Regions from separate parts of the Homo sapiens genome. Here region 1 is linked to region 2. Evidence: fine-mapped expression QTL. A gene starts in region 2. The other region holds a variant in brackets. All regions are shown on one strand. Distances are between the middles of the regions. Region 1 overlaps LOC107985965 (a long non-coding RNA gene). Region 2 holds the start of HAGLROS (HAGLR opposite strand lncRNA).

What was found. PIP is the estimated chance that this variant, and not a neighbour inherited with it, causes the effect.
Region 1: its variant is fine-mapped to the expression of HAGLROS in stomach (GTEx, PIP above 0.99).

The regions. Positions count from the first base shown.
Region 1 is chr2:176,987,314-176,990,228 of GRCh38, forward strand. LOC107985965 (a long non-coding RNA gene) reads right to left here. Exons shown (of 2, transcript XR_001739799.1): 2 at 2,072-2,915. Among named protein-coding and RNA genes, the nearest start is that of MIR4444-1, 220 kb to the right of the region's middle. The variant C/T (reference allele first, on the strand shown) is at 1,316.
Region 2 is chr2:176,176,564-176,179,478 of GRCh38, forward strand. It overlaps HAGLROS (HAGLR opposite strand lncRNA), which reads left to right and starts at 1,603. Exons shown (of 2, transcript NR_110457.1): 1 at 1,603-1,690; 2 at 1,862-2,446. HAGLR (HOXD antisense growth-associated long non-coding RNA) reads right to left here. Exons shown (of 3, transcript NR_033979.2): 2 at 769-931; 3 at 1-129. RefSeq lists an enhancer at 1,000-1,794.

The DNA of each region.
Region 1 (2,915 bases), 810 kb after region 2:
GAACCCTTACTATGTACCAGATATTTTCTAGTGAGTAGAGAAAAAGCATTGAAAAAGTGGATGAAATACCTGTCCTCATGAGCCTTACACTGTCAACCTCAGAACATGGTTGGGAAACAATACTGGATATACAGTCATATATTATGTGGCCAAGCACCTGTGAACTCAAAGAACCTGACAGATTTCCTCACCCTACGCTAGCCTCCTTCTGTCCTTGAAACCAAACATGGCATCAAATTCTGAGTAACAACCTAAGAGACAAGTGGGCAGGCAGGGAATGGGAACACCTTTTATTAAAAACATTAACTCTTTCTTTTTGGAAACTTAAAAATATCTTCCCAGTTATAAGAAAAATAAATTAGAATATTCCTGTTTTGAAGAGTTACATTTGGCAATCAGTTGTGACAATTTAATGAGGTTTTAGACAGACAGATGGATGACAGAGCTTAAAACAGTGCCTGACATACAAGATTTCAATAAATGTAATCAATAAGGAGGAGAATGCTAACGATACATTCAGTCACCTGATGACATCTTATCATATTCACTCCCTCAATGAAATAGAAGCAGAAATGGTATAGGCATATTCCTATGCTATTTTATGAGTTCCTCCAGGTGCTATGACATTCCCACGAGTGAGCTGCATTTTCTTGGCCATGTAGTTTCTCCCCCTTGGACCAGCATTGCAGCCAGTGCTTAGCCAGGGCACCCTTCTCTCTTCTGCATCCCCTGATGGTCAGTCAGTTTCAGGACTTTTGATGTGATTCTCAAGATGAATCTTGGAAGCCACAGAGCGCCCGAATCAGGTGAGCCAGCTCACAGACACCAGAGTTCAAAGAAAAAATGCTCTGTCCAGAGACAGTCCTAGTTCTTTCTTGAAGTGATGCTCATCAATGGTCATAAGGTGCCATAGTGACCAGAGATTCTTAATCCACCCAAGCCTTGAGGGTGGAAGGAAAGGGAAGGCCTTACTATTACACACCTTGCCCAGAGATACACTGTGCTTCCATCTCATTTACAGTACATTGCCGATTACAGAAATGGTCATTATCTTCATTTATAAGCACCTAACCATAATGTATAATAATCAGGGTAAGGAAAGTTGTATTTTCCCAATACAGTTTGTGGAGACCAAAGCAACTCCATCTTGGATGCTCATCTTCCATGTTGGCTTCTGATTAAATCCAGCTCTGGGAAGGCCTCTACAATTTCCAGTTTATCTATTGCTCCTTGTGTAAGAACAGATACTTACTGTAAATCCTGCCCTTAAGCCAAACAGTCTTGATGTTATCGCACTTCAATTGTCCTATGCATC[C/T]TTTCTGAATCACCCTTTCCCTATACCATATAAGCCCTGCGTCTGAGGGGTAATGGTGTAGGGATCCACCATCTTGTCTCACTGCCACCTGAGATAGAGACATGGCTTCTGTTTGCCAAGTCCCTATTGAATGCTTATTTCTAAGAGACTGGATATGTTAGCTTTTATCTTTGGCCTCTCAGCTTCCTTGGCCTTGGGGAGGGAGGGGGGTAAGTTTGTTTAGGCCTGCCCACTGCAAAACATAGTCACATACAGATTTGATAGTAAACGCACACTGTTCATGTACGCCTAGACTCCCAGAGGAGTCATAATCGCCCATACACTACAAGCTCTTCTAGCCTAAAGCCCTGATTTTTCTAGAAAGATGGTCAGTCTCCATCTAAAGGTATTCCCCTGTTGCATTTTTTCAAAGTAATGCATACTTTCCCTTCTTATCCCTCATCACAGTCAATTATGTATGCAGGTGATGACTTCTGCCTCCTCCCCACCTACTATAAGCTCCCTGAAGGCCCTTTGTCCATTGGTACATGAGGACATAGCCCAGGACCAGGCACATAGTAGTCACTCAAAGAATAATTTTGGAGTGACAGAATGAATAAATGAAATGGTTTTGATTCACCAGAGTCAAGGGACCAGTTATATATTTGCTTGTTTTCACAGGGCCGCCCCCACATGTCACTAAAAACAGGTCCTTATTATCTCTCCTTTAGACCTTCTGCTGTGTTAACACCGTTAATGCAGACACCGACACTCAGATTAATGAAAGGAAGCAATTTATTGAACTGATATTTGGTGTAGATGTCATTAGCTGCGCTCCTTTGGAGCAACTGCATCAGATTAGACACAGTCTCTCCCTAAGAGCATGTAGAAAATCATTTAACTGCTTTTTCCCAGCTGTTTATGTGATGCCAACCCCCTATGAATTGTTGAATTGGTTCTGAGGCAACTGTGAACCTTCTATGATTGCTCTTCATTGATGCTGTTTTTGTCTCTTCTGAGAAATATATACTATAATAAATCATGCTGTTGCAGTTTTATTTTTTGTTGTTATTGTCTCCTTTCCTTCCATCTGCATTCAAGATATTAGAAAAGTTCCAATAATGAGACAAGGTCAATAGAGCTCCAAATAACTTGTCAACACGGTGACACCTGAAAGGTGATCTTGGAAACAGAATAAGGGCCTGGTGGGTTTGAGTGGTTTTACAAGTCTATGAGGAAATTAGGAACTTTTACAGATACTTGGAGTTGGAAAAGTCAAAGATATCCATTAGGCAACAAGGCAAGTTCTGAGAGAGCTCATACATATCCATTACCTTCCCAAGTTTCACCAATAAATGAGCAACAAATTAGCAGATGGTCTATAAGGCAGATGGCCCAGTTCCCTTCTAGAGCCAGTGTCACTTTTCCTAGGTTTTCATTCTCAGCTCCATTGATAAGACAGCTATTGACCCAACACCCTGAAACCCCCCACCCATTCTGAAATTCATTCCCTCCATTTCTTAGTGATCTTCCACTTCAATCCCATACCGCAGCCTGACTGACGAGAAGTCTTACAGACACCGCTGACCATGCTACTAGGCGACCTATTCCTTTATAACAC
Region 2 (2,915 bases):
TGTTTTGACCTTTTCCTGAGAATTAGCTGAAACTTCCCTCTGAAGTCAAGTAGTGAATCTGTTATAGGTCTAAGGAAGGTCCTCTTCATCTGGGAGTTCTTGGCATTACTTTGGTCCTTCTTTCAGAAACTGAAAGAAAAGAATAGGAAGAACAGAAGTTTGTGAGTAGGCAGGAAGGGACATGGATGACCCCAGTCTTCACAGGACTATGGCCTGATCACTTCGAGGCACTGCAACTTCCCAGAGTATATATGTAGGGCTTGGGTTGAGTGGCCCTGTTCCGACACTTTGGGCACAGGGAGCTGAGACTGGGCTGTCACTAGCCAAGCCCTTACCATCTTTGAGGGCTGGTTCTTAGATCTCTCTTGCAGAAGGCCTGGATAGAAAGGAGAAAGATTGGGTATATTGGGAGGCTGAGACAGGAGAATCGTTTGTACCTGGGAGGCAAGGTTGCAGTGAGCTGAGATCACACCATTGCACTCCAGCCTGGGCATCAAGAGTGAAACTCTATCTCAAAAAAAAAAAAAAAAAAAAAAAAAGATTGGGTACATAAGTCCTCTGCACTTTCTGCACTGGTGATGCTGGAGAGGAAGGACGGTGAATGATAAGAATCATCACAGAGGATGAAATCTTAGTTCTCATTGTTCCCTTCTTTTCTACTCCAGCTACAAATGCCCTTATCTTTGGAGTCCAAGGTTGGGAACAAATGGATTTAAGTACCTGGCCTAAAGCCTATTCCTAAAAACTTCCCTCAGGTTTCACACCTACCTTGGCAAGTTGGAAAGTGCAAAGACAATATAAGGGCCCATTTTCAGGCCAGGTCCAGCATGAAACAGAGTGAACAAAATTAGTTCCACACATTAGGGAAGAGCCAAGTCAGACGAATATCCAATCATTTGCAGTAGTAGAGGCAGGTGAAGGGTCCCCAGATCTGTAAGGCAGGAGTTACTGCATGAGTCTTTCTGTCCTAGATCTTGGGCAAAATGTCCTGATTGGTTCCTATAGCTAGTCTGGATTATTTTAAGGAAAGAATACTACCTGGAGAAATCATAAAAGCTGGGTTTTAACATTAGTAAGGGCCAGAAGAATTTAAATCCTAATTTAAACCAAAATTCATGGAGAGCTCTGGTACAGGCAGTGTTTTTACCTGGGAAGCAGGGCTCAAAACCTGGCCAGGAGGTCTTGTTGGGCCAGGAATGTCCGTGGTTGGTGAGGAGGCTGGGAGAAGGCCTTTTTGATGGCTCCATTGTTCACAGCGCTGCCCTACAAATACCATATCCGTCCCCACCTCCTCTGCAAGGGTCGAGCGGAAGAGTAGGTCTGGTGAGCTGAGCTCTAGGGAGCTGGTACCATCTTCCCTCAATCCCCCTCGGTTACCCCTTGGGGCAGCAACGACGCCATCCCAGCCCCTTCCAGAGAACACACAAAGGAAGCCCCACCCGTCCTTAGACCTGAGGACACGCTCGGGAGCGGGCTGACGTGGACCCCGTTTCAGGGCGCCCCGGGCCCCTGCGGGGAACAATAGCCGCCGCCTCCTGGGCGGTCTGGCGGGCGCGCGGCACAAACGTCCGCGCCGCCACGTGATGCGCGCGCTCGTTCCGCGCTCTCCGCGCCTCAGCGAGCGGCCAGGCTGCGGGCGGGGTGGGCTGGCGCTCCTGATCCACCTGGAACACTTTTGCAAAGACAGACGGTGAGTTAATCACCCTACCGGCTGGCGGCCGCGTCCCCTCTCGCCCGCGAGGAGGACTGGAGAAGGGGCTGGGGTGGAGGTTTTCTCTGTGTGTGTCTAGGGTTGGGGGCAGGAGAGGTTAGTTCTATTAAGAGTTCATCAATCACCCGGTGTGCACTTTTCGCTCGACAGCGGTTCCTCCTACTTCAGAGCAAGTCTGGGCCAGCTGGGATCCGACCAGAAATCGCAAGCGGAGGAGACGCAGTAGCGCAGGCTGAGCGCTAACTGAAGGCGCGACCTGAGCCCGGCGCCTGCTGGGGAGCTGCGCAGCCAGGACAGCGGTCGGCAGCACAGGGCCTGGGCGCAGGGCCCGCCGTCACCACCTCACGTCGGAAGCCAGCACTGCTGCCCGCCAGCCCTGCCGCCTGCCCTCGGACTTCCCAGGGCGCCCAGGGTCCTCCCAACGCGCCTGCACCCACACCCGCCCCTGAGCCACAGTGACCTTGCATTCCCCGCCCCCTGCCACACCTCCTGCGTGCCCGAGTGTCACCCTTAAATACCGCTCTACACCCAGAGAGGGACGAATACACCTCTGAAGACAGGGCAAGACTAATTTCAATGGGTCAGAAGGTTCTTGCAGGCACTGTTTTATTTAAGAGTGCCTATTTACTGGCAGGAGTATTTGTGTGGGAGGAAGTAGGCTAAGACTGCTGTTGAACTTGAAGCTAAACTTGAATGCCATTTAAAATAACAATAAAAATATACTTAAAACACCAATCACAATGATATGACTCACCTCTTTCCAGTGTGGAGGAAACACTCCAGTATTTTTACCTCCGTTCTTTCCGGTGTATTTTAAGAACACCCTAAAGGGATAGACAGTAAGTGTCTGAGGGTAGTCACTAGCATTAGAGCTGTTTACAGCAGGAGGGTTTGGTGGAGTTAGTGGTGAAGCATTTTTATAACCCTTCTGGAGTGGTCATGCTGTTCTCTTTGTAAATCCTAACAAGGTTCCAGCCTAGTTCCCCTTTTACCCTTTTTTGCTGCGGGACTTCAGCTGAGATGTTTCTGAAGTTAGTAAATGTGTTGCCTCAGGCCACAGAAAATAGTCCCTGAAGGAAAGAAAGCCTCAGCTTTGCCCCCTCTTCCTTCAGCCTTCTCTCCCTTCATCCTCTTGGGTGGAAAATTAACTTGCTTTGGAAAAATGTTCTACCATCTTGCTTCAGATAGATATAAGCTGAAGCAT